Homo sapiens: one gene and its partners. The protein of the gene in region 3 interacts with the protein of the main gene of each other region in a biochemical or structural test. Each region holds a gene or a part of one and is shown on either strand. Other genes may lie near its edges. The genes, in order: ACVR2A, KCNA4, ERBIN and ARHGEF7.

Region 1 (7,026 bases), on a different chromosome or scaffold from region 3:
GCCAGGCATGGTGGCGCATGCCTGTAGTCCCAGTTACTCAGGAGGCTGAGGCAGGAGAATCACTTGAACTGGAAGGCTGGGGTTGTGGTAAGCCAAGATTGCACCACTGCACTCCAGCCTGGCCAACAGAGCGAGACTCAGTCTCAAAAAAAAAAGAAATAGGCAGATAAAGTAAACAGATGTGATATGTGATAAGGCAAATAAAGAGTAATCCTCTCGGCACCCTGTTAGTTTCTGTCCGAGCACGTATGACAATCTGTAATTATGTTGTTCATTTGACTACTTACTTTATGACTATAAGCTTCAGAAAGGCATAATCATATCTGTCTTCATGTTTAATAATGTATCCCAAGCACTTACCATAGTGTCTAGCATGTAGTTCAATATTGATTTGTTAAGTGAATGAATACCTATTTCACCCTCTTTAATTTAGGGTGAGTAAAGTGAAATCTTAATGGCTGTCAAAGGTCAAAGAAGAGTCAGTAGGAAAGTAGGAATTTGAATGACAGACTCTTAAGTTTTAGTCCAAAATATTATACCACATTCAAAATATTGATCTCAAAGTACAGTCATTGAATAGCTTTGTGTTTTCAAAGCTTAAAGTAGCTGGTACCTAAAAAACAGACTTGAGAATCTTTCAAAACTTTACTTCTACTAAAAAGTTTTAAAACACTTAAAAAGTTTAAGAGAAGTTGTCCAAGAAAAAAAGATATTTTAAATTCCCACTAATAAATAGAGACGATTTAGTCCATTGTTTCTTTTTAATGCATGCTAAAACAGTGAGACCTTAAAGAACTCTTTGTAAGGAACCACGATATCTGAATATTCTAGATATTTATTGGCAGCTATCTGGCTCTCTATAATGATATGTTCTTTGGCTGTATCATTTAGTCAGAGTATTATTTCACATTAACTGACTGATAAGTAACCTGCAAATGTAAATATCCCCCAAGAACCAAATCTATATTTTTTAATGTTTTACATACCATATCCTTTTAAATGGGACTTAAAGATAGATTAAAAACTAATATGTAAGATCTACTCTGGACCAGCTACCATGTTATGTGGAGTTATCAATTCATTTAATACATCTTGGTTTACAAATTTTAAAAGTTAATCTCAGAGTTTTAGAAATGTGCCAAGATCTCATAACTTGTCCATGCCCCTTCCTCTTGAAATAATGCCTTGGAGCAAGCTTGATATATCACATATAGTTATGAAGATGGGAAGAACAATAAACTTTTCCTTTAAAATAAAAATTTTAAAGTTAATAATCATAACTACGAAAACTCCTCCCTCTAAGCTTTATAAATAGGCTTACTTTTATTACAATATGTAAAGACTTGATTCATTTTTAAAATCTTTTGAAAGGCAACCCCTCCCCACATGTGTAGCCAGTCCTTCTAATGTAGTAACTCTCTTCTTGCTTTACATTTATTTTCTTTAGCAATATTAGAGAATAAAGTAATTCCCAGTGTGACTACAGCCAACCAAAGAAAAAACTAGTCCAAAAGAATGGTCACTGAAAAGTTTAGGTTTCAAGCGTGAATACCATATACCAAATTCAGAAAAGCATCTAAATCTACTTCCTTAGAACAGTGTATTTTACTGTAGGGTCTCATACAGATTTCAAAGAATATAATCTGGATGACCAGTATGAGTAATTACTGAAATTTGACCATCATTTAAACATAAACAACATATTGAGCCACTAATGTTTAGAATTCTTTAACTAGACTTCACAATGAAGACATATCCATCATACAGTGTCTGCCTCTTTAAGAGAATATTACGTTATCATGTTTTATTATGTACTCTTATTTTTCCAAATACATGTCTTTATTTCTATTCATGCTTATCATCTAAAACTATATCTATCTGTAAACTTTTTTAGTTATGAAGGCACTTTCAATTTTCCTCTGGCTCATTACTTCCTTACCAATTTTATTTAGTAGTGCTACCATTCTACCTTAGTCTTCGAGTTGCTTTTCAGTCCTATATCCACATATGGGGTATTTGGGACATACATCAGGATATGTATCATCCACTCTTACCTCCTCAGTTTTAATTACTTTTCATTTGAATTTAAGGGTTAACCCCCTGAGATTGTCCTACTTCTTCAAGCAATTGTGAACTCTCTTCATCACACAAATCTCTTCCTCAGATTTAGTCAAAATTTCTCCATCCCACCTTGCCTTCATCCATGGTCAAGTTTACTCTCAAATGGCTATTGTGTTCCTGATGCTATTTTGTGTCTTTTCCTTCATATTAACATCCTTCCTAATCTCCGTCTAAGACTTTTTTTCCAGTACTAAGTCCAGCAAGTCTTTCCTAAATTAAAAAATCCCAACTCCCCAAAATTACAATCTAATGTTGTTTCAGCGCCTTCGTGTGTGCTTAATTTATTCGACTAGTCCAAAAGAGAGAAGACCTTAATCAGGGAAGAGCCATGTTCTCCCTTGAGACCAGTTTTCCCTATATTCTATACCTAGGCACACAGTCTCTATTGTAGATTAATTAATGACCATATTTTTCAGTGCATATATTTTTCATTGCACACATTTACATATGAAGCTTCCTTTTCCACTAAGAGAGTACTGAATACAGGAAATAAGGATTGTTGAACTAGGTCACTGGTTTTAGGGATTTACAATCCATTAGTTGGTCAATGAATCAATTAATGGGTCACGATCAATGTTTTTTAAATGAAATGTAATATAAAAATACATAAGTGTCCTGCACATAGTTAAGAGTACACAGTTCATGAAACTTTCATTTCTGATGCACACAGACATATATACATACACCCCTACTACTACATGGGAACTAAGTCATAATGCAATGTGTAATTCCTATTGTGTATTACAGTCAAAAAAGTATGAAAGCCATGGAACATGAGGATACCTAAGATCCCCTCTAAATCTATATAATTCAAATTCTAATTTTAATTATTTAAAAAAATTTAAATTTGAACATAACTTAAAGATATCAAAACAATGAGCAAAATCATCTTTTCTTAATAAAATGTCACCACTGAACTCTAACCTTAAAATTATAGAACCATAAAGCTTTCAGAGTAGGAAAAAAAATCAGGGATCATCTAATCCAAGTTCACCACTTCAATACATTAAGAGGACAACCGTGGCTCAGAGAAGTGAAATAATTTCATTTCATTCATTTAATAAACATTTGCTGAGCACCTATTGTGTACCAGGTTCCAGGAATGGGTGTGTGGATAAAGGAAAGATGTCTTCAAAGAGTAGAAACAGGAAAGTAAACATTTGCACAGTCTAAAGTGGAAACAGGCAAGTAAACATTTGCAATTATTACTGAAATCAAGGTCATTTACAAGGTGTTAGATGAACAGAAAGCAACTAACTCAATCTGGGTTGAGTGACAGAGAAAATGTTTCTAAAGAGGTGATACTTCTCAGTCTTAAAACCAAAAAGGGGTTAGCCAGGTAGAAGAGGAAGAGTAATATGTACAAAGGCACCATACTGATATACAATAAAGGATTACACATTTAAGAAACTGCAAGTCAAGTCTGTATGGATGGAATATAGTACTCAGGCTGAGGAGAAGCTGCAGCAGAATAACTAGCATTTAATATTCAAACCACTCTCTGAGGTAGGCACTATTAATATCCCCCCATTGTGTAGATGAGAAAACTGAGGCACACAAAGGTGAAGTAACTTGACCAAGGTTAAGTTATGAAACCAAGATTTAAACCAATTAGGTCTATATCCAGAGTCTATACTCTTAACCAATACCAAGAGGTTAGAAAAAATAGGCAGGAACCAAACGATGAAGGACCTTTTATGACATTCTAAGACTTTAGATTCTATGCTAAAGGTGACTCACAGTCAGTGAAAGGTTTTAAGCAAGGGTAACATATTCAGATTTATTTTTTAATAAGATCACTCCAGCAGCTATGCAGATGGACTAGAAAGAAAAGGAAGTAGTGATAGGGAACTGGTGAATCTTAGCTAGAAAAGTGCTACAATAATCAAGTAACAGAAAATGATACATAAGCTAGATACTGGCAGCACTGACACCACAGCTCAAGTCTACCAACCTCTACGACCACATTCTTGATCACTATCCATATGAAGTTTCCAATTCTTTCCCTTAGGTCCACCACTCTAACAGTTCAAAAAATCCAATCTCAGAGACAAAAACATATTTCCTTTAAGTCCCTTTATTAAAACAAAGCCTGACCTCTAGATGCACTGGGTATACAAAAGTGACTAACAAGAAATCTAGGTGGAGAATGACAGAAAGTCACTTGCTATCTACAGTAGTTTTCTTACCTTCTTGATTTCTCCTCCTCCTCCTCCTTCCTCTATACACTATTCCTGGAATTTTCATGTTCAATAGTCAATTTGAAATCAATGTTCTGTCTAGACATGACTATTTTACAATCTAACAGAATTAAATCTACCACAGAGGAAGTCTAATGTGGTCCTATCAGCAGCAATAAATATACTCTTGGTTCTAGTCAAATTTTGGCTTAAACAGAGATGATAAATGAATAATAAGATGAGCGAAACTTTTTCTGAAGCAGCAAAGAGTTAAGGAAAACCTGAATATTAAAAAAGAGAATAAGAGCAATCTAAAGTTCAAGCCATTTGATTCTAAGAGAGTAACACTATTCCCAAGAGGGTGTGCGAGGTAGTCCAGAAACCAGTAAATGAAAAAACAGTGGAAAAGACTATCTGGTCAATTCTCAAGCATTCTAAATTCAATCTGTTTTCATTAAAACTACGGGTAAGCCCTCTGGAGTCACCCATGATGCTAAGCCACAACTGGGTTCCACAAGCAAGCAGTATAAGGAAGTACAGAAGGGTCAGGGGAAGAAAAGGGAGTAGACAAAGAAGGGAGGAAAATGGAAAGGGAACAATAATGAAAGGGAATGGAAAAAACAATGAGTTACAGAGCAGTGAGCAAAAAGCTAAGGCATACCAGTGACCCCTAGTATCAAATGTTGCCAACCTTACCTATAATCTGAGACAACATGGCAACTGGCAACTTAACAGACCATGAAAACACAAATTTAAATCATTGGACTCATGAAATATCAAAGATGAGAAAATCATAGTAGCACTTTAAAAAGTCAAAATGCAACAAAATAAAGTCTTGGAATCTAAAGAAACAATTTAGAGATTACTAAAATCTCATTTGGTTTAGTTGTGCTTCTCTTAAGAACAGTGAGTCTGGTGGACCCAAAAGGCGAAAATGTCAGTATCAGAGAGAAGGGTATGGAGAGGTGTGTTACAAAGACACTGTGAGGCTCATTTGGACACCATTTGTGGGAATGACTTCAGAATTTTCCTCTCTATGGTATAATGCTCCTTAATTTGCTAAGAGTTTCACTGTAATTCTTATCTTGGTTGGCTAGGTTAACTCCCTTAAAACCAGAGTTCAAAACAAGGTAAGCATTTTATTAATTATGGTCAAGATTTAGCCTTAAAAAGGGAAACGATCTGCAATAGATCATAAAATATTACTTACTGTATCATGAATTAGTCTAACGGTAACCAAAACCCAGCTAGTGATTCTCAAGATAATTATGTAATTAAGAGATTAGGTTAAAAGTTTCTTGAAATTAAAGTTAGCTAGACAAAAGAAATATCTTTTTTAAAAAAACAGAATTTCTACCTTGAAACTATTCAGGGAACATGTAATAGTGAACATATTTCAGGCAACATGTTACACACACACACGAATACCGCCATAAGGCAGCCCAATGATGTCAGTAAAAATAAAGGCAAATATCCTTAAAGATCATATCATGGCAAAGAAAATCCTGGATCTAAAGCAAATATAATTAAACTTGATACCTTAACCAATCATTCATTATGTCCAGGAACATGCAGTCTTCATGAGCACTCTATCAAAATCGGTGATAGGAGAGTTTATCCATAAGTCATTGGAATATTTTATTATAGTATAAAATATTATACTATACTGGTGAATTCTCAAGCATTTCATCAAGGATGAAAGAATGTGCGTATCTATAGTCTGTTTCTCTAATTTAATCATATTCTAATTTAAAAGATAATGAAAAGATAAAAATCTTTCAATACAACGTTACCTGGAGATCATCAATACCATGTACTTGTAAAATTTAGATTACTAACTTTAGGGGGAAGAGAGCAGAGCCCTTTTACTAATAAACTACTGCTTTTAAAATTTAAGAGTTTAGAACTGAGTTTTTCCTTTTTTTTTAATTTGTATTTTAGGTTTGGGGGTACATGTGAAGGTCTGTTACATGGGTAAACTCGTATAATGGGGTTTGCTGTGCAGATTACTTCATTACCCAGGTATTAAGTCCAGTACCCAATAGTTATCTTTTCTGCTCATCTACCTCCTCCCACCCTCCATCCTTGAGTAGACCCCAGTGTCTGCTGTTCTGTTCTTTGTTTTCATGTTTTCTCATCATTTTGCTCCTACTTATAGGAACATGTGGTATTTGGTTTTCTTAGAACAGGGTTTTTTGACCTCTACACTACTGACATATTGAGCCAGCTAACTCTTTGTTGTGGAAGGCTGTACCATGTATTTTAGGACGATTAGAAGCATCCCTGCCCTCTACCCAACTAGATGCCAGTAGCACACCCCGTCCCCTGTTGTGACAACCAAAAATGTCTCCAAATGTCCCATGGATGGGGATCTGGGGAAGTAGGGAGGGGGACTCACCCCAGCTTGAGAACTGTTGGCTTAGATCATAAACAGGAAAAAAAAATAGAAAATGAATGGAGGGAGAATTTTGTTTCATTTTGTTTCTAGTCTCCATGTTTCAATGTATTATATTTGAATTTGACCACAGACACCATTTATAAGAGATTCTGCCTTTTAGAAAACAAAGTATTTATCATCCATCACTTGTTAATCAAAGTTCAAAAGAATCCCAAAAGATTCTCTGTAATGCTAACTCCCCCTCCAACCACACATACATTCACACATACACAGTACTGCCTAGCTGAACTGAAGAAAACATAATTACCATATTTCCATTTCCTCTTT
Region 2 (7,551 bases), on a different chromosome or scaffold from region 3:
TAACACAACCTCCCCCATCCCATGTTTGTAAGGATTAAATGAGATAATGGATGTTGATAGAATATCTCAGTGCCTTTTACCTAATGAATGGCAATAAACACTGGCAGTTATGAATAACATAACAGCAACCTATGTTTTTATTGTCTATCTACACAGCCCCAAGTGTTTGTGTCCTTAGGCCACAAACTAAAGTAGGGGAAGATGGGACGTGAGGACATACAAGACATCCTGAGACTCACCAATGGCCCTTGTTAAGTTGGCACTGCCTGACTCCCTACAGCATGTCCCCATTGTTTTTCTGTTCCCTTGAATCCTGAACACTCCCTACCACCCACAGACTAGGAACTAATGCCAATTTCCACATCTCTAATAACCATCTTCTCTCCTTGGCGGTCACTCCATGTTCACCTCAATGGTTCCTCCTCCACTCTGCTCAAGGGACTATCTCCTTATTTTTTTAAATGTCAGTTTCTGTGGACTTCATTCTTAGCCTATCATACTTACCCCCACTTCAATAAAATCCACATCCCTAACATCCCCCCTCCTCTCTCTTTCTCTCTCTCTGCCCACTTTTATTTACAATCTCACACTTCTGAATTGCATGTCCCTTGCAGCTCCGATCTGCTCCCTCTGTCACCTGTTATTCCTGGCCCTTCTTCTTCCTTAGTTTGCTCTCCCAAGATCCAGGTAATTCATCTCCTCAGCCAGGCCCTGTAAAAGCCCCCATCCAAATCTCCTGTCTCCTCTTGATTTTTCCATGTACTCTGTTCAACAGGACTTCCAAGAATGCAGGGAGTAACCCAGAGAACTGGAGAGAATGATGATAGTCAGAATTCAGGGCATCTACCAGCTTCTATTACTGGAAGCACTTGGAAAGCATAAGAGAAATGGCTTTCTGAAGCCATTAACAGGATTCAGCTCTTGACCACCTGCTGCTCCTTGCTGATCCTGTCAGCCTAAAAGCCTAAACACACTGAATTTTATGAAGTGACAAGCATGGAAGTGGCAAACAGAGGTCTTCCCAATCATACACCCCTTCCCAATCATATATATTTTCCTAGGGCAAGAAGGGCATTTGATTGCAACACAAACTCCAGAAAATACACCACAGAGGGCATCTCACATGCCATCTCCCTTCCTTTGCCTGACTCCTAACATCATCTCATACTCTGAAATGTTTACCCTCAAGGAGTTTCCAAATCCCTACTTACAAAACCATCCTGGGGTGACATTCGCAGTGGAGTGTCAGGCCAACATCCTTTCAAGACCGGTACAGACCAAATAGCCTGAGAGTTTGCTCAGTTTCTTCCCCAACTCCCCTAAAACAATTATAATTTCAATGAAGCCCCAATGTAACCCAAGTTCCTGTATAGTTGAATACTACACACACTGCCTTCCCACCCAACTGACTCCCAGAAGGTCATGAATTAGCGAGTCTTCTAATTCACCATCAGCTCTTCGGGAGTTCTAGAACTGCCCTCTTTCTGCTCTACACCAAATAATTTCACATTTATTTATTTATTTGGGATTGTTAGTTTTTGTTTATCTAACTCCCTCCTCCACCCTACAAGTAGCAAATTGCCTTCCTTTTAATCATCTACTAGTTACTTCACTATCCCTGATCTAGAAAGAAAGGGAGAGAGAAAGAAAAGAAGAGAAAAGAAAAATCATTCCTCCCAGCAAATCAGACTGGTTTAAAATCTCTCTTCTTTCTCAAGGTACTCTTGTTAGGAGAATCTATTCAAGCCAATTCCCAGGAGCCTTTATGAGAGAGATCTTTGCAGAGGAATTTGTCTTCTTCTTTAACACCATTAAACTAATAGGATTTTGCAGACTACCTATTCCCCAATCCCGGCGCCCCCAAACAACAGCCAAGCATCCCGCCCCTCCTCCTCTCACCCCTCCAACAACAAGGCTGTTCGTCTCTCAGTGCTAATTCCTGCAACTGTGTCACTGTCAGGGTGGTACCTGAACCTTAGAGAGAGAGAGAGAGAGAAAGAGAGAGAAACTGAGAGAGGGAATCAGAAAAGCCACCACCGTGAGAAATATACACTTCAACGCACGCCATTTATGCAGCCCCTATGTATGTTGCTCAAATGCTCGGAAAATGCACGCAAATCCAAACGTTGGAAGAGGCAGCAATTCAGACCCGTTCACCGGCTGTTCCCAAAAGAAGGGAACCGGTGCGGCTGGGAGGAGGCGAAACGATGCTAAATCTTAACCCCCCTCTCGTTGGGAAACGACATCTTTAATCGCGCCCTCGCCTCCAGACCTCGGTTCCCGCTCCAGCACGTTAAGCAGGGCGCACTCACCGCATCCCCGGGTTTGGGAAAATAACAACTGTTGGCCCCCCGGAGCGCCGCGCAGCATCCGCACCTCCCTTCTCCCACCTCCTGGTTTATTTTTAACCGCCTTCCATTCATGCCCTTCTGTCACATTCCCGATATTATTTATCCCTCAAATGTCCACTGTTTCTTAACAGCCAAAATAAGAAGGTAGAGGAAAGATACAAAAAAAAAAAAAAAAAAAAAAAGGTATCATACTTACCGTTCCCCGGCGGGGCGAAAAATAAAAATAAAGAAAATCCACCGGCTGGCTTGTTTTTCCCCCTCAAGCTGCAACAGCTGGAGGAGGGGAAGAATGATCCTGGGTGGGGGGCGGGGGGTGGTAAAAGGAATCACTCGGGTTTGGCAGGTGGAGGCTCCAAATATCCACGGAACAAGTTCTGTTGCCTGGCCCGAGGGGTGCACAGAGTCCTCGCGGCTGGAGCCTGGGGGTGGGGGTTGGGGCTGCCCCAGAGAAGACCCCAAGACTCCTGGTTCCTCTGGAGTTCAGCACAGGAGGGATTGCCTGGGAAAGGAAGTCAAGGTTCCCCCGAAAAGAAACAAAATCCTAGACAGCAGCGATCACTTGTTAAGCCCGAATTCCTCCTCCAACATCCATCCCTCTCTCGCTCTCGCTGGCTGCGGGAGCAGCACACGCCTCCCCTGGCCGCGAACGCGCTCTGGGCGGGGGCGGGGCCAGGGCCGAACCGAGGGTGTGGCGTTCGCGACGGTCGCCAGGGGCGCCTCCCGGCGCGGCGGGGCGGGTGCAGTCACGACGCCGCGACTCCCCGCACCCCGGCTGGGCCCCCCGACTCCCAGGATCTGGGATCGATTCCAGGAGTCTTTGGCTGTGGTCCCCACAGGCGAGGAGCAAATCCTGGAGAAGTGTCCCCGTTGGGGCCGGAATAGGGGTTTCGACGGCAGCGCGGGAGTCCCCAGAGGGCTTGGGAGCGGGGAGCTCCAATGGGAGGTGCAGTCCCGAAAATGGGGTCCTCTGGGACATCTCCTCTACCTAACTTGCTTTCTCTATATCTCCCCTCGAGCCCCGAGCCCCGTCTTCTTTTCCCCACCCCATCCCCTCCCAAAGCGGGTTTGTTGGGTTGGGAGCCGGGTGCATCTCCGGCGAGGCCACGGGCGGGGAGCCCTCCTGTGCCTGCCAGAGCGCCCAGATCCCTCAGTCTCCGTCTCCTTTGCACACAGGAGTTGGGAGGCTTCAGCGCCGGGGTTGGGCCTCAGGGGCGCGGAGGAGACCGACTTTCAACCTGTATTCAATCCCGGGCAGGGGAATGTTACAGAAATTGGAATCAGGCCCAGGCTAGGGGCTGCGCACAGGAGGCAGCAGTTCTAGGGGAGGAGGGTTGGAGAGATGAGTAAGTTGCAGGGTGGGCCAGGGGCTGAGGGCTTTGGAAGGCGGGGGAAGAGCCCGCAGCCAACCTGTTGCTGCAAAAACAAATACGGCTCTGGTATCGACTCCCTGAGGGCTCTTTGGATCCTTCAGGACAGAAATCAAGGGATATCGCAGCAAAAAGCAAGTTTTTTTGGTTTTCTTTCTTTCTTTCTTTTAATTAAAGCTTGTGCGCACAAGGGAGCTAACACCAAGAAAAAAAAAAGTGGGCTGTTCCTCGAAGTCAGGGTGTGGGTTTCTTTTACGGGCCTCTCCCGTAAGGGGAAATAAGGAGAACTATAGACAGGGCATGTAGAGGTGGAGTTTTTCTGGTGCATGCATGGTGGTTTAACATGCTTCTTCATAGGACGTATGTATCATTAGCATCTTAAATCTCCACCTCTGGGAAAGATTTTTTGCATTAAATTAAGGAAAAGGTCACTATGAGTTGAAAGTTAAACCTAGCCGCCGCGCATGCCAGGGCCTCGGGCAAGTCCCTGGTCCCCTAAAGCCGAAACTTCTGGTTAATAGCTTCTTGAGCTTTTCATGCTAATTGGCTGGAGTTACAGTTTGAGGAAGGGTCTCTCCTTGTTTCTTGTTTATTTCTTCGGACCACATCAAAACAGGAAAGTAGACAGTTTGCCTGTCTCAGGCTTGCCAGAATCAACCGGGCGAGAGGTTTGGCTCCCGGGAGGACTCTATCTTAGTGATCTCTCCCACTGCCCACCTCCATTTAAAAAAAAAAAAAAAAAAAAAAGGGTTTTGCTGTCCATCTCCACCCCACTCCCACACACGCGAGCGCGTGCGCACACACACAAACAAACACACACACACACACACACACACACACAAATAACCAGAAGCCCACGTGGCGACGGGGTCTCCCTAGACACCTCTCCCAGCTCGCCCGATGGACCAAGCAGGCAGTGGCAGCGCTATGCCCCGGACTGCTGGAGCAAATCCGACCTTGGGCTGGTTGGTTGGCGCCAGGACTGTCACTGTCGTCCTCGGGGCGGCAGCTTTGTTCAAGGGCTCTATTGGGCCTCCTCCTTTTGTGATGCTCAATTAATTATTAAGGGAAATATTCCCGAGCTGAATTATAGATATGCCTTGCACTCACTCACCTAACCGTTGCGGGCTCGGAAAAGGACACCTGGAGGGCTGCTTTTTGTTGCTGTTTGATTTTTCTTTTATCTTTTCAAATAACCGGACACACACACACAAAATCGAATTGTAATCAGTGTGAAAGAAAAAGAAGAAATGAAACCTGGAGTGCACCCTGGTTTTTCCAACGTCTTTCAGCTAGTGCAGCTTGAAATTTTGGCATGAATAAGTTTAACTGTAACCCCCTGGCCTCAACCCTGGTGGAGCTGAGAGAAAGGTATCTTCATGCTGGCTCTAGAGACGTTCTTTGCCTCAATTTATTCCCTACTGCAGTTCATTCGAAGAGCAGCAAGACCGGGTTTCTCTAAAAGTGAGAACGATCATGCTCACTCGCCTCAAACCCTCTCTGTACCTCCACAATGTGATATCACTGTGCAGTTTCATAAGTACCAGAAGCAAATAACTGGTAATATTTATTGTTGGCTCATTAGAAGGATATTTCTTGGGATAGTAAAAAGCAGGACTGGGACCTGTTTCCCAAAAGCAGTTTATGAGATCAATCCGGTACAGCTATGCAGTGCTTTCAGGGAGATGAAAAGTGAGATGGAATGATGTACTAGAGATGATAGTTGTATTGAAGCTTGGATATTTTAATTGAGTCGTGTTTAAACTTTATGAATTATGCTTCCCTTTTGCTGTTTGTTCCTATCCCAGATAATTTTAAAGTTTTCAATGCCTGAGGACTTTAATATTTGCATTTCTTAGGTGTTGGTAATCTGAATTACTAAAATACGACAGGAATGCTGCTGAGGAAAAACTCTACTCTCAGGAGGACTTGCGCAAGGCAGGTAAGATTAACTGAGTGTCTGCCTCCTACCTGGCTCTGTGCTAAGTTCTTTGAATGTATATTATGTAATTTTATTTGCATAACTAAATGCTTTTTTATGTGATAAGTACTATTATAACCACTATTTTATAGAAAAGGAAATGAAGGCTTACAATGATTAGCTAACTTGCCCAAAGGTTATATAGCTAATTATGTAGCAGAACAAGGCCTTACATATCTGACTCTGCAGTGTAGACTGACCCCGTGCTAGTGATGTGGTCTATGCCCATTTGTTCATACAAGCTAGTGGCTGTCACAGATGCATATACAGATTATGAAGCAAGGGGATTTGTGTTATGATGGAGGTATGAGAATGTTGCTCCTTGGTGCAAAGAGTAAAGCAGCATCTAGTGTGGAGGCGGTAAGCAAGAATTCCCAAGGAGAGAGAGCACTGTCTGAAAAATCATAAGAGTTGGAGTGGCCGCCATGGAGAATGCACAGGCACATAGTGCTGGGATGGAACAGAAGCAACTAACTGGAGCTAGAGATAGGTTAGGACCAACTGGGAAGAGCATGCCCCCTCCCAGCCTTCTCCCACCACATGCACACACACACCCCTACCTCTTTGCCCATTTAAATAATTAATTCATAAAGCAAACAAGAAACATTCTATTTCTCTCCTTGAAATTATCCTAGGAATTTCTAGGAACCCATAAACAGTAGCAAAAAGATTCTTTGATTGAGACCAATAAAAATCTACCTTGTCTTAGTCCCCAAACCTTGTTTACTTTTTATTTTCTTTTGAAATGGGTTCTCATTCTGTCACCCAGGCTGGAGTGCACTGGCATGATCACACCTCACAGCAACCTCAAACTAACTGCTGGGCTCAAGTGATCCTCCTGCCTCAGGCTCCAGAGTAGCTGGGACTACAGGTATGTGTCACCATGCCCAGTTATTTTTATTTATTTATTTATTTTTAGTTTTTGTAGAGACAGGGTCTCATTATGCTGACCAGGTTGGTCTCAAACTGGCCTCAAGTTCTCCTCCTGCCTCAGCCTCCCAAAGTGCCCACCACGATTACAGGTATGAGCCACTGTGCCCAGCCCCTCTTTTCTATAAAGAGGAAAAAATTATTTTCTTGCCTTTCTTAGTCATCAACTAGTCAAAATTCTTTAAGCTCTCCACCACCAAATACACCTATTACCACAAAGAATGTATCCCTGGCTTTGAATTCTCTCAGTGGTGGTACAAATGTTCCAGATCACACCGTGAAGCCTTTGCTTATATAGAAAGTGGCAGAGGCCAACAGATCGTCTCTGTACAAAGCACGATAGGAAGCCCTGTGGGATACAAGCTAGGCCCATTATAAATGTTTTTGTTCTCTTTGAGGACTGTGGTCCACAGTGAATTGCAATGTTCTGTTTACTCCTCTATCTCCCCAAACATGCCTGTGATACTTCACTGAGAACAGACATTATATCCTGAGCAACTAGCGTTGTACTTGACCCAGAGTAGAATGTGAATGAATAATGGAAGAGGCTTCCCTTTGCCAAGAAAGTTCAGTGAATGTGTTGTGAGAGAACTAGAAGATTGCTTTTTCACCTGCTCACCCCAGCCTCTCAACTATCTATCTCACTTTTAAAGTTCTGAAGTGATGGGCGTGGGGGTGGTGAGAAGGCCTTGGAGATTTGGTTCCATGCTCCCATATCCAAATTTATGGATGGGGATATTTTGATCAGCCCATCATTCCTTATAAAATGTGAGTCACTCAGCTAGTTTTTTCTTGGGTTTTTCAATGACTGTTCACCACCACTTCCTAATTTATCTTACGCATATAGGCACTGGTCAAAACTTAAGATATCAGAAGAGCATATTTGTTTCTTACTATAATTAGTGTTTTATTCCATTTCAGC
Region 3 (7,026 bases):
TCAGGAAAATAAAGATGACTCCTAGGGTCCCTGGCTTGGGAATGGCTTTTAAAAGAGCAGACAGGACCCTCTGTTGATACCAGGTATCCACGACAAATCAAAAAGCATCTACTATATACAGTCCCTGCTATTTTGCAGTCAGCATCAAGACAATAAACTAAATCTTCTGAAGTCCCCAGGGATTAATAGGGCACCCAAAGGATCCATTTGATGCTGCCAAGATCCTTATCTTTTCCTAGAAGACTGAGAGATTTATTCTAGTCTCAAAGGATATGCCTCTTAAATCACTTCCAAAATCTATAAGGAAGAGGAAAGTCAAACCAACTTATTCTAGGTTGTGTGATAACCTTGGCAACAAGATTCATTTTTAGATCACTAGTTTCTTGCACTGGTCCTACTACAAACATACCCTCCTCTCCCCACCCCCCCTCCATCAGACCTCCCTCCATGCTCCCACAAAGAGTCTAGAGTGACCTAAGGTGTGAAATTCCAAGAACACCATTATTAGGTGCTTCAAGACTTCAGGATCATGCAAACAATATAACCTGAATATATGAAAACCACAGCTGGGTGCAGTGGCTCACACCTGTAATCCCAGTACTTTGGGAGGTTCGAGGTGGAAGGATCACTCAAGCCCAGGAGCTGGAGACCAATCCTGGCAACATAGTAAGACCTCTACCTCTATAAAAAATAGAAAAATTAGCTGGGCGTGGTGGCATATGCCTGTAGTCTCAGCTACTCAGGATGCTGAGGTGAAAGGATTGATTGAGGCCATGAGTTCAAAGCTGCAGTGAGCAGTGATCATGCCACTGCACTACAGCCTGGGCGACAGAGCGAGACCCTTCTCCAAAAAAGAATAAAAAAGAAAAACACAACTGCATCAAAATCACTGCACTCATACTGAAATTGAGCAATTATCTCCACAAATAACTTGTCCAATGTAAAGAGTAAAAGTACTGGATTTCTTCCATCCTCCTTTCACAGTCGCCTCAAGAATTACTAAGGAATGAAATATTTCACATAAATGTACTTTATCACGGAATTAAAACTTGCCTTTTTACAGTTTGGAATTTTATCTCTTTAGAAATACTTCAGAAATTAATTGGACTGCAGACACTTCTGGCTCAAAAATGTTTGAACAAATGTTTACCTTAACTTCCTCACACACATAACATATGGAAACAAAACTATTTCTCACTGTTAGAGATAAGTTACAAGTATGGAAAGGGGAAAAAAAACAACTTAGAGTGAACCTGGTGGTGCTGGATTAGAATTGCATTATAGAAATATGCAGATGCTCCTCGATTTACAATGGGTTTACATCTGGATAAACCCATCATTTAAGCCAAAAATATCACAGGTTGAAAATGCACTTAGTACCCCAATAAAACCCCTGGTAAAGTCAAAGAAGTATAAATCAGGGACCATTGTATATATTTATAGATATATAAATAAAAATAGATGTAAATATGTGTAAGTACATAAAAATATTTCCTAGCTTTGTATATGAAGAGGGCCTGAGAGTAACAATACCCTAAAAACAACAATGTACACAAGCCCCAGATCTTGGCTTCTAAGTATCATTTTCCACTAAAAACAACCAGGAAAAGTAGAAGATATGTTAGAACATCTAATTGTGCTAAAAAACAAGGAGTACTCAAAAAAGGAAGAGGTATCAAAAACAAAAAAGAAAATAAGCCAGGGGGTTCTCACTGGCCAATCAAGAACAATTTGAGCACCAAAATAAATAGTAATGCATTATGTCCTTGCGAAGATAAACCTAGGTACATGTAAATAAGTGAATTTAAAATATGACAAACAAAACAAAATATTTACATAGTTTCAAAGCACCTACCGCAAAATATTAGTTAATTACAAACAGGGAATGAATACCTTAAAAAGGGCAAGTCTGGCAGCCACAACTTTAATCACATAAAGTGAATACCATAATAGGACACACTGAAATTGCCTGCCACCTGATAAGACGTAATAAGAAGAATGCAGCATCACTTTTACAATAACCCTGCCAAAGATCTAATCATAAAAATCTAATCAAAGATCTAATCATGAAAAATATCACACAAATGAAAATTGAGGGGTATTCTACAGAATAACTAGGCCTGTCATCTTCAGATCTTCAAAAGTGTCAAGGCCTTGAAAAAAAAGAGAAAGAAATTATTCCAGATTGAAGGAGAATAAAGAGATGACAACAAAATGTAACACATGATTCCAAACTGGAATAGTTTGCTGTAAAACACATTATTGGGATAATTGAGGTTCAGATGTTAGTAATATATTCATGTTTACTTTCTGATTTTGATGGTAATGATGTCATTATATGCAGGAGAATATCCTTGTTTGTAGGAAATAAACATTAAAATATTTAGGGGTGACGGGCTGGGCGCGGTGGCTCACGCCTGTAGTCCCAGCACTTTGGGAGGCCAAGGCAGGCAAATCATGACATCAGGAGATCAAGACCACCCTGGCTAACACGGTGAAACCCCATCTCTACTAAAAATACAAAAAATTAGCCAGGCGTGGTGGCGGGCGTCTATAGTCTCAGCTACTTGGGAGGCTGAGGCAGGAGAACTGGCGTGAATCCAGGAGGTGGAGCTTGCAGTGAGCCAAGATCACGCCACTGCACTCCAGCCTGGGCGACAGAGCTCTCAAATAAAAAAAAATATATATTTAGGGATGACGACAGGGCATCATGTTAGCAACTTAGTCAAATGGTTCAGGAAAAAAAATGTTCAAACTTTTCCATATGTCAGTCATTGTTTCAAAAATTAAAATTTAATTTAAAAATATCTATAGCAGTGCTGAAAACCTGGGAGGGGTATACCTACAGATAAGAACAGAACGGAATTTATAAAGAATACAAAGTAGGCTGGGGTCGGGGAAATAACAAAATGCAATACACTTGAGGAACCAGACACCCAAAACAAGAAGAAAGTGGGATCTCCAAAAAAGATGAGTTTTCTTAGCAAGAAGGATTAAGAGAAGCATATCCTGAGCGGTCAGCCAGAGAGCAAAACCATAGTAAAACACTGTGTAGCTAAAGCCTCTAGTACAGCTCTATGTATGTAGGAGATGTGACACTTGGACAGTGTGATTATGAAAAAAGGAGACTGCCTCCTGAGGAACAGTAAGCACCTGTACCAAAAGGTCAAGCTACCCACATACCTTCAAAGAGAAACTCGTTAAATATTTCTCCCTTTCCTCTTCTAAGCAATCACCAAAGCCAGAAGAAGGATTCATTGGGCTGGGAACATATATTTAAATGACCAATACAGTAGAGACTAGGTCATCATATAAAACTTTGACTACCATGAAAATCTAGTATTTGAAGAAAAAACAAAAAGCATGACATACACCAAAAGCACAGTAAGATCAAATTTTCTGTAGTGTTAGTAGAATAAACAAAAGACAATGTTAAAAGAACATCTCAGAGATTAAAGGTTACATGCAGACCAAAAATAGGGCTAGAAAACCAAAATTGGGCCAGGTGCAGCGGCTCATGCCATAATCCCAGCACTTTGGGAGACCAAGGAGGGAGGACTGCTTGAGGCCAGGAGTTCAAGACCAGCCTGAACAACAGAGCAAGAACCCATCTCTACAAAAAAAAATAAAACATTAGCCGGGCATGGTGGTGCATGCCTATAGTCTCGGCTGAAGGTGAGGTGACAGGATAGCTTGAGCCCAGGAGTCCGAGGCTGCAGTGAGCCGTGAGTATGCCACTGCACTCCAGCCTGGGCAACACAGTGAGATCCTGTCTCAAAAAAATAAAAACAAAAATAACTCCTATGAAAAACTAGAATTCTTAGAAACTCTGTTCCAAAAACAAGTAACAAAATAACTGAAAACAAATGAAAATCAAGTAAGTGGGCTTAAAGATCAAGCTTCAACACTCTCCCAGAATCCAATACGAACAGACAAGAAAAAAAATTTAATTAATGAAAGTTCCATAAATCCCAACTTCCACCTAAGTTCTTGAAGTGCAGTCCATAGGCCCTGGAAGTCCACAGTCTCTGGAAGTCCCTGAGACACTTTCAAGGAACCTTCCAGGTCAAAACTGTGTTTATAATATTGAAATGTCATTTTTCCCTTTTCCATTATATTTACATTTTACACTGATGTTGCAAAAGCAATGGTTGCAACAGCTAACACCTTTACAAGAACAAAGGCAATGCCTTCAAGCTGCAATAGTACCACTACATATTCCCAGGTTTATGTCTTTTTTTTTTTTTTTTTTTGAGACGGAGTCTTGCTCTGTCGCCAGGCTGGAATGCAGTGGCGCGATCTCGGCTCACTGCAACCTCCACCTCCCGAGTTCAGGCAATTCTCCTGCCTCAGCCTCCTGAGTAGCTGGGATTACAGGCGTTTGTGACCACACCGAGCTAATTTTTTGTATTTTAGTAGAGACAGGGTTTCACTGTGTTGTCCATGGTCTTGATCTCCTGACCTTGTGACCAGCACTTTGCGCGGTGGCTCACGCCTGTAATCCCAGCACTTTGGGAGGCCGAGGCGGGCAGATCACCTGAGGTCAGGAGTTCAAGACCAGCCTGACCAACGTGGAGAAACCCTGTCTCTACAAAAAATACAAAATTAGCTGGACATGGTGGCGCATGCCTGTAATCCCAGCTACTCAGGAGGCTGAGGCAAGAGAATCGCTTAAACCCGGGAGGCAGAGGCTGCGGTGAGCCGAGACTGCACCACTGCACTCCAGTCTGGGCAACAAGAGCAAACTCCATCTCAAAAAAAAAAAAAAAAAGAAAGAAAAGAAAGAAAATCTTCCTCCCTTTTCCAACCAAATACCTGTATAAGGCTGGATTTTCTTCATATACTTTAGCCAAAAGAACATACTGTAACAGATGGAGTGAAGAAGCAGATATGAGAATCGAGCTGTTTTCTATTAAGCCAAACATAAGAGACTTGCAAAAATATAAAACATTGCCACTATTTTTGCTATTTATTTTAGAAAACAATTATATTTTTATTAAAACAATGTTACACTAACATGCAATAGCTTATTTTCAAATAAATTAATTTTTTTTAATTTCTGTTTTGAGTCAAACCAAAAAGTCTGAGAACAGCTGCCTTAGGACTATTACTATTTCTTGTAATTATACCATATTATAACAGAGTGAATCCTCCTACAGGGAAATGAAATGTACAAGGCACTTAGCCTCAAAGTAAGTTGTCCCAGATTATTTTCTAAGTTATTCAGTCATCTTTCCATTTTTCTATTGCTTCACTGTAACACCACAGGTCATAACTTCACAATGCTGTAAACGTACCTTTCTCACGCCTTCTGGGATACCAAAGAACCAAAAACAGCTCATTATGTACATAAGTAAATGGGCTCTGAATAATAATGGCCCTAAAAGTGAAGTCCCCAGACTCTGTCATACCTGTTGTGATTAAGGAGATGTCATTTTTTATTTTCTAGTTTTTCTACTACATTCAATATGCTTTTAAAGCTATAATAAATAACCTCCAGATAAGTAGAGTCTTATTAAGTGAATTTTTAGATATTCTCCTTTTCTATCGTCTTCCACAAAGTGAATTTTTAGATATTCTCCTTTTCTATCGTCTTCCACACTATCACTTAAAGCCTGGCAAGACCTTCATTCAATGGTGTCTGGAACAAAATTTGAAGTGACAAAAATAGAGTGATAGAGTACTATTGTGCTTATTTCATGAAATCAAAGAAAGATAATTTCAAAATTTTAGGGATTCTGTGTCAGAGAAGACATCTAACTTGAAAGGTAGGACAGAAGAGGAAGGTACAGAGAAGAAGGAACAGAGAAATATATCTGTATGTTTTAAGAGGCCAAAAGTATAATAAAACAAGAAGGTAGAGAGGGTTACAAAGTCTTAATACATAAGAATAAATAACAACCTGGTATTATCTTAACAGTCAATTTTAAGAACACTAAAGAGAAAAAGGAAAACTGAGAAAACAAAGTATAAAACAAACAATGGCCGGGAGCGGTGGCTCATGCCTGTAATCCCAGCACTTTGAGAGGCCGAGGTGGGCAGATCACGAGGTCAGGAGATAAAGACCATCCTGGCTAACACGGTGAAACCGCGTCTCTACTAAAAATACAAAAAAATTAGCCGGGCACAGTGGCGGGCGCCTCTAGTCCCAGCTACTCGGGAGGCTGAGGCAGGAGAATGGCGTGAACCTGGGGGAGGCGCAGCTTGCAGTGGGCCAAAATCTTGCCACTGCACTCCAGCCTGGGCGACAGAGCAAGACTCCATCTCAAAATAAACAAAGCAATATACTGATGAATATAAAGTTAAAATACCAGCATGTACACTTAGTTGAAATGCAAAGGGGATATTCAGAATTAAATGGGCTAATAAAATAAGATCAGATAAACTTTTTCCACTGCATGTTTTGAACAGTTTTTTGAGGTGATAAACATAGACTAACAGTTTGGAAAAGAGGGAAATGGCAAAATATAATTAAGAACGACCAACTGAACACAGAGAAAATAAGGCTAGGTAAATGAAGCTAACTATAAATATAGGAAGCTAAGGGAATCAGAAGAGAAAGCTGAATAGCAGCTAAGTTTCTTTTTTACAATTAGGAAACCTAAGAAGAGACAGCTAAAAAGTGAATCTGAAAAATGGGAGTTAGCAGTAGGCCGGGCTCAGTGGCTCACACCTGTAATCCCAGCACTTCGGTAGGCCAAGGTGGGCAGATCACCTGAGGTCGGGAGTTCGAGACCAGCCTGGCCAACATGGCAAAACCTGTCTCTACTAAAAATACAAAAATTAGCTAGGCATGATGATGTGCGCTTGTAATCCCAGCTACTTGGGAGGCTGAAGCAGGAGAATCGCTGGAACCCGGGAGGTGGAGGTTGTGGTGAGTCGAGATTGTGCCACTGCACTCCAGCCTAGGCAACAGAGCAAGACTCCATCTCGAAAAAAAAAAAAAAAAAAAAGAGGAAAAGACAAAGACATCTTTAGAGGTTTATAATAGAGATGTATTCCCAGAAAAAGAAAACGGAAGCAAGC
Region 4 (7,026 bases), on a different chromosome or scaffold from region 3:
CGATCCAGTCCAGAACGTCAGCAGTGCCCAGGCTGAGAAATCTCATCCTAAAGCATGGCCGGTGGAAGAGGAGACTGCTGGACACTTCTGTGGCCAAGCGTATTTAAAAAATGCTACACACTGTGAACTCCTTTCCAAGATTCGTAATGCATATAAGTACTTTAACAGCTGTAAGTCCTACAGAAAATGAAACCGCACAACTGTGTTTAACCTAGCCCCTCTGAACATCGGTGTATAGAACACTATGACTGTGGCTGGACCGAACACTTTTTGGCATCCCCCAAAGCCAGTGTTCTAATGGTAGAAACGGATACCAATGATACAGAGACCATGGGTCACCACTGTGCTAAGAATGGAAAAATAAAATCCTGTTGTTGAGATGAGCTCCAGCAGTCTGTCAACACATCAAGGGCAAATCCAGTGTAAGCACCAGCCACACAGGCAGAGACTCAAGCCTGCCACAAGTGACAACCTCTTCTCTCCTTAGGTTAGAGAAGGCCCCTGCCTCCAGCCACTGGAATGAGATTCTGGGGATATAAAATCGGAAGCCAGATAGTGCTGACCAGAAAGGACAGAGATTTAGGTTTATCAAGGTCATTTAACACAGAAGTAGCTGCTAGTTTGGGGGAAACTGTAGTGGGCACTATCCTAGCCACAGATCACCTCTCTTCAGCAGTGGCCTAACAAACTACAGCCTCACTTTCCTGAGTCTGTTCCTACATATGTGATTCACCAATTCTAAAGCACGTGTGTTGGTGTAAGCGTATGGCCACAAGTCCTCTCTGGGTGTCGGCAGAGCCTCTGTGAGGGCATAGTGTCTGCTTAGGGATCTTGAACGTCCTTGCTGCGCCAACACAAAACAACACGTGCTACAATGAAATGCAACCCAGAGAACACGAAGTGGCGGCTTCTGCTGCAGTGGTTACGTGGTGACTGGCCAGTCCTCAGAAAGTTGATGGGAAGGATATGAGCCTCTGTAACTTCCCAGAAAAAGAAGAATGAAACCTGCCAAGTGCATCTACTAGACAGACAGCGAAAATACCAGCTCCTTCATATACCACCACTATAAACCACTGTCGCAACAGAAAAGGCCCTGCTCACCCTTGCACCTCCTTCCCAAATCTGCTGTCACATTTTCTCAAAGAGAAGCAGGGAAACAAAAATTAAAAAGGTTCAACGATCACACACTGCTACTTACACCCTTACATCACTTTCTGTTTGCTGATGCATTTGGGCGGTGCCGTGCCACTGACACAAGATCTTAGTCTACACTACCCCACTAACCCACAAGCCCTACTTGAACCAATTTCACAGAATAAAACCATAGCAAGGAGGAGCAAGGTATTTTGCATGAAACGACAGAAGGCAATGACAGAGACTGACTTGTGCCACAGTAGTCTGTGTCCTTATGAGGTTGCTCTACAGTTTACACTTCTTTCCTTTTTTGAAATTAACATAGGATATGCTTGCAGTCACAACGAAACACAAACAGGAGCTGTACGTCCATATCTGAATATACAGCACTACACACACAGCACATACACAGATAGATACACGTAATATTTAACACAAAATTCAAAGCCAGTTTGAAATTATCCTCAGATCCACAATAAAATATAAATTTAAATTGTGTTTTACCTGATAGATAAAGCCACTCATCCTAGGACTGGCAGACAACATTAGCAAAACATTTGGGAAGAGTAGAAGATATCTTTCATTCTTTTCCTAATACAAAAAAAGAAATCCAAAACATTTCTTAAAAAACATCTACTTAACAAATGTGAGCACAAATACTTCACTTATTTATACTAGGCCCTATGAAACATTACATGATATTTCTCGTTTAGGTATTTCTATCAAGTTTTATCAGGTAAATTAAATGGAAACAATTATGATAAATTCTGTATTAAGTCTTAACATATGATTATGAGAGAGCTTTAACATATAGGTAAAGAGAAGGACTTCCAAATTCTTCAAAAAACAAAAGGTAAGAAAGTAAACGGACTGATTAAAAGATCCTGGACTCACAATTAGCCTGTGTAACATCTTGAAACTATATTTGGTTAAAGAGTTCAGCTCTGTGATTAACTATTTTCAGGTAAGCTAAAATTTTCTTTTTCTGGTTCAGAGAAAAAGGAGAGAACCTATAAATTTTAATGGGGTCAGGGGGAACAGGTGGAGTCTTTAAGCTAAAGAAAGGATAAAATGTTAAAATCAATTTTGGTCTACTAGTAATTCCTGGCACTTCCCAAACCTCCCAAATGTCGACTCAGTGTTGTTTTCATCCACCCCATAAACATCACCTGGTTTACATCAGACTTAAAAGTATTACTTATGTATTAAAAATCATTTGCTTCAGTAAGATAAAAGCCAAAGAGACCATAAGTGAAAGAAAAAAGTTCCTAAGAATCCAAAAAGAGACAAAAAAATGCCACAGTCCTTTTCACATGTTGACATTTAAACTACGGCCCAAAAAAGTGAAATCAGTCCTAGGAATTAGTTTCCCCAAGTATATTCCTCAGAACATTAGGCTTATGCAAAGCACCTTGAGAAAAGAGTCTTCCGTACTTTAAAGAAGTCACTGAGAACGACTTGCTATATTCCCCTCTTGAAGAATCACAACATACATTGGGAACATTCACAGCCAAGTCTCTGAGGAGCTCTATCATAAAGAATCTTTTCCACTAATTACGTTCAGTCGTGATCAGAACCACTCTGAAGCATTTTGGAGTAACACCCACCAGTGCTGTATAGATCTAATATTATAAAGAACACACTTTGGGAAATGTTTCCACAGATTAAAGTTTAAAAGAGCATGACTCAAAAAGAAACTTCTTCTGAAAAGATGTGAAGTTTTTATAATCATGGTTTCTTATGGTACCCAAACTACAAGACTATGTAGAAGGGGTGATATTTTACAGGTGGAAAGGAAAACACACTATATAAGTTTGAAGTTTTAGTTTTCTTATTCTCCTTGGAGTCTTGTGTTCAAAAATGAGTCATTTCGCATGTTTTGATCATGTTATTTTTGCAAAGGTAGAATAAAATTCAGAAAGAGGTGCCTGTTCAGTGACCCATTGAATGTATGTCAATGTGAATCATGAAACAAACTGCTCGATTTTCACTGTGTGGGTGGGTATGTCCCAAAAATCTGGGTTGATCTCTCACTTAAACCAAACCTGTAAGAAAACTGTGACTCCTGTAAGCATATGTCAGCTAGCATACTTTCACAGGAAAGTATAATGACCCGAAAGCATTGAGAGCAGCAGGTCCCTGTGAGAGTGAGCCTTGGTACAAAGTTGCTGGCCAGATAAGCGCATACAGCTCCATGCGGATGTGTGCACAGGACTCCTGCAAGTCTTTCTGCACACTATCTATCCTTCAGTTCACGTGGGCTTCGGGCCACACTGACTTCAGCTGGATCAAACTGATCAACAAGTCCACACTCAGCTCTAAGCCTCTCTAACATGCCATAAGCCTCTCTCCTGTGTCAAGAATAAAAAGTAGCTCACAAATTATAAGATAGAGCTTCTATTAGACATTTTTCATCGCTTGAGATGCCTTTAAAATCTTCTGCTATGAGCTCCTAAGAGTGGGACAGAAACCCTGGTGCGTGCATGTGGGCAGCAGTACCTCACTTCCGGCACACTGAATCAGGACCTGGGACATGTAAGTGACGTTGCCCAGAGTTTTAATGTCATCGCCCTCCCAGTTCCGGATGGCTTCCGTCAGGATCTGCAGCTCAAGCTCTTTCCTCTTCCGGACTTCTTGACATTGGGCCTGACAGACACAGAACAACACTGTTAACAGACATAAACTTTCAGAATGTTAAGTTCCGGCCACATTGCTTTGTATCATCCTTAAGACAATTATTGCTTTATATCTTACTTCTTCAGACAGATAATTTATTGAGCGATTTGCTTAATTATAGGGAATTGAAAGTATTTGCTTAGAAGTATGAAACCAAGTTAAGAGAAGCAACACACACAACTGCTCTGGAATACTAAGTATTATTTTAGAAAGATAGAGCACATTTTGCCACTTGTACAAAAAAGAAATGTGGACAGGACAAGAACTGTATTTTCATTCTGGTTTTGTTCGTGTTTGCCAATATGGAAGACTGAAAAGAAGAAACAGAAAGTATAACTTGTGCTATAAAATAAGGCCATATATTTCCAAAACGCAGTTGGTAAGACAACACAACAGCAGAGAAAATGGAACCACCATTGTTCTGTTTTGCAATAAATCATTAAAGACAACATGAATGAAGGGTAAAAAAATGTTTTAAACAATTTTAAAGTAGATCTAACATCAATTACACAGTGACTTTAAAAAATTTAAATAATTATTCTATCATAGTCCACTAAAAGGAGTTTACCAGCCACAGAATGCCGACTCTGTTTTTCTTTCATGTCAGCACAAGTCATTTTTTAATCATTTGACTTTTTCAGTTGATAATTCTTTTACATTCATTTGTCACAATAATGTCTGGGGGGGAAAACAATATGCTTAATCACTTACTGAAAGGTTTTTGAAGGCAGCCATGGATTTTTGAATATCTTGTCTATCTGTATGATAATCCTTTGAGTAAAAGAAACATACAATTAGCTTTCATAAGGAAAAGCTTTTCTTAAAAAGGTACTTTCTACAGACCAGCTTGAAACTTTTCTAACACTTTTCAACCCTTAACATTCCCTTTTTCCCTCAGCATTAAAGTGTCAGTCTTTCAGCAAATCACGAAGCCATTAGACTTTGGGGAAATATAAGTTGGAAGAGAACAGTCACAAGCAGCAGGGGTGGGGAAGCCAACACTTGCTTCATCAATAAAGTCTTATTGGAACACTGCCACGGCTCACATACAGTATCTAAAATGGCAGAGCTGTGTAGCCGTGAAGAAGACCCTACAGTCTGCCCCCTTATAGAAAAGGTTTGCCAACTCAAGCCAAGAGAGTAACTTCAACCCAAATTTCTGCTAGGCTGCAACCTGTTATTCAAAATTAAAAGAGCACAATCATTCATCAAATGATTAGTACAGTATTACCCTATAACCTATGCACACATTGTTTGTAGCTGGATGATCCAGGTAAGACATCTCAACACTATCTGAAAATCAGTTCTCATGTTTCAGCTTTTGGAAACTTTTCAATCAGCAGCAGTGGGTAAAAGAGAGATAAGGGGTAAATGTTTTCTAATAGAGCTGGAATAAGGAGAAAAACATAATATTTAACAAAACTCTTTGTAAACTCTGTTGGTTCTGGCTTCTAAAATAAATCATGAATAATACTTTCTTTCACAGTAAGTCTGACCATGCCACTAACCCTTGGTAAGGACTCCAAGTAAGAGAATGAAAGCGCAGTACCTCCATGTGTCTCTCGAGCTCTTTGAGCAGCGTAGGGTATTTATCCAGGCGCATGAAGGGTTTGCTCAGGCCCGTGGTCAGCACGAGAATCCCAGGGCTGCTGGCACCTTTGGTCTCCATGAACTCCCCCAACTCCTCACTGGGCAGCAAGTGGCAAGAGAGACACTCGTGGTTAGCAATGAGAGACAATGGTGGCTCTCTCATCTCCATGAGCAACAGCCAGAATTTATGAAACATAAGTGTTGCTTTTAACATCTGGAAGGCTCCAGCTTTTATCCCAAATCTGCGCTGCTTATCTGGAAATGCCAAAGGGGACTCCCATCCCTAAGGGGTCCCGTTCCTGCTCTCATATGAGCAACAATAACTATACACAGCACAGGACATGTGGGTCTCCATGAGATCCTACTGATGGCGAGGTCCTCCAGCACATCAGTGCCATGCAGACATATCCAATGGAAACATGCACACTCAGAGCCAGAATGGATTCCAATAATCTCAGAGTCTCAAGGTGGTAGAACAAGGACCGAGCTGCTCCGGTAAAGAGCTAGAGCACACTGATGGTAGTCATCCCCAGATGCGAGTTCGTCCAGCGAGCAGGCCCCACCTATGTGCTGCCAGCACTCAGCCTGGGAGTAGGCAATGGCTCTTGGGGTGAGGAGCACGAGAAGCAGCAAGAGAAGAGAGCAAACGCTGATTTAGGCTTCAGAACTTCAAAAGCTTTAAGTTTAATCCTCACAATACGTGAGGAAGAAAGGGGTCCCTGTGTGCAGACAGCGAATGTTGATTTACGCTTTAGAACTTCAAAAGCATTGTTACATTCAATCCTCACAACACGTAAGGAAGGAAGGTGTCCCTGTGTATGGACATAGAAACAGTGCATATCCCAAAATTAAAGAGTCAGAAACAAGTTTTAGAACTTTCTGTATTCCTCTTCAACCATCCCCTTCACAGTGCCTCGCCTATCTTTCCCTACAGTGGGTCCTCATGTGTGTCATCTTTGTCCTCAGAGTTCCCATGGCTGTGGCAGAGGACACGGGCAGGCTTCTGTGGGGGGTCCAGCTCTTCACCCACACGTTTGTTAAGGCTGACAGTCACCTGACCGCAACACCCCTTCACTGGCGATCTCTGAGGTCTCTGTCAGGCCCTGGGTCTGCTGTCCCTCAAATTGCATGTGCCATCAGTCCACACATCTGACAGTGTACAGCCCACAGAAAGGAGGGGAGGCAGCACCAGCGCTGGCAGCCGATGCCAGGTCCAGACCAGGATGACTTCTCAGTCACCACATCCCATCCAGGAGACCCAGGTGACCCCCGCCCCATCACCACGCCCCATCCTAGAAGATAGGGGTCTCTAGTCAGCAGAGCTTGGTTCAAATGATACCCATGGCACAAATCCTAGGAACAAATTTTCCTAGTCTAGAGGTTTTCCCTTAAAAGGAAAAGATACTTTTATATCCTCATTATGTAAACGATGTCCTAAAATAAACATGAAAATCCTAACAGCAAAACTGAGAAACAAGCCAATTTCCGGTTCTGGTCTCACAGGAGCCTCCCACCGCACCACCCCAGCCAAGCTGGCTACTGCCAGAGGTCTCGGGGACACCAGAACCATCAAGGGCTCCCGGGGAAAAGACAGACAGTGTTTTGGCTAACCCAGAGGAAACTGAG

What was found.
Region 1: the proteins of ERBIN (region 3) and ACVR2A interact in a test that uses a peptide from one of them, tested with the Homo sapiens proteins (2 studies listed by BioGRID and IntAct).
Region 2: the proteins of ERBIN (region 3) and KCNA4 interact in a test that uses a peptide from one of them, tested with the Homo sapiens proteins (3 studies listed by BioGRID and IntAct, with this or other methods).
Region 4: the proteins of ERBIN (region 3) and ARHGEF7 interact in a test that uses a peptide from one of them, tested with the Homo sapiens proteins (2 studies listed by BioGRID and IntAct).

What each region holds. Positions count from the first base shown.
Region 1 is NC_000002.12:147,848,019-147,855,044, reverse strand, and holds part of ACVR2A (activin receptor type-2A isoform 1 precursor), read right to left. Parts: intron 1-7,026. UniProt on the Homo sapiens protein: On ligand binding, forms a receptor complex consisting of two type II and two type I transmembrane serine/threonine kinases.
Region 2 is NC_000011.10:30,014,025-30,021,575, forward strand, and holds the start of KCNA4 (potassium voltage-gated channel subfamily A member 4), read right to left. Parts: upstream 3,007-7,551; 5' UTR 2,548-3,006; intron 1-2,547. UniProt on the Homo sapiens protein: Voltage-gated potassium channel that mediates transmembrane potassium transport in excitable membranes. Forms tetrameric potassium-selective channels through which potassium ions pass in accordance with their electrochemical gradient.
Region 3 is NC_000005.10:65,929,565-65,936,590, reverse strand, and holds part of ERBIN (erbin), read right to left. Parts: intron 1-7,026. UniProt on the Homo sapiens protein: Acts as an adapter for the receptor ERBB2, in epithelia. By binding the unphosphorylated 'Tyr-1248' of receptor ERBB2, it may contribute to stabilize this unphosphorylated state.
Region 4 is NC_000013.11:111,272,286-111,279,311, reverse strand, and holds part of ARHGEF7 (rho guanine nucleotide exchange factor 7), read right to left. Parts: intron 5,499-7,026; coding exon 5,360-5,498; intron 4,582-5,359; coding exon 4,522-4,581; intron 3,781-4,521; coding exon 3,634-3,780; intron 1,726-3,633; coding exon 1,639-1,725; intron 1-1,638. UniProt on the Homo sapiens protein: Acts as a RAC1 guanine nucleotide exchange factor (GEF) and can induce membrane ruffling. Functions in cell migration, attachment and cell spreading. Promotes targeting of RAC1 to focal adhesions. May function as a positive regulator of apoptosis.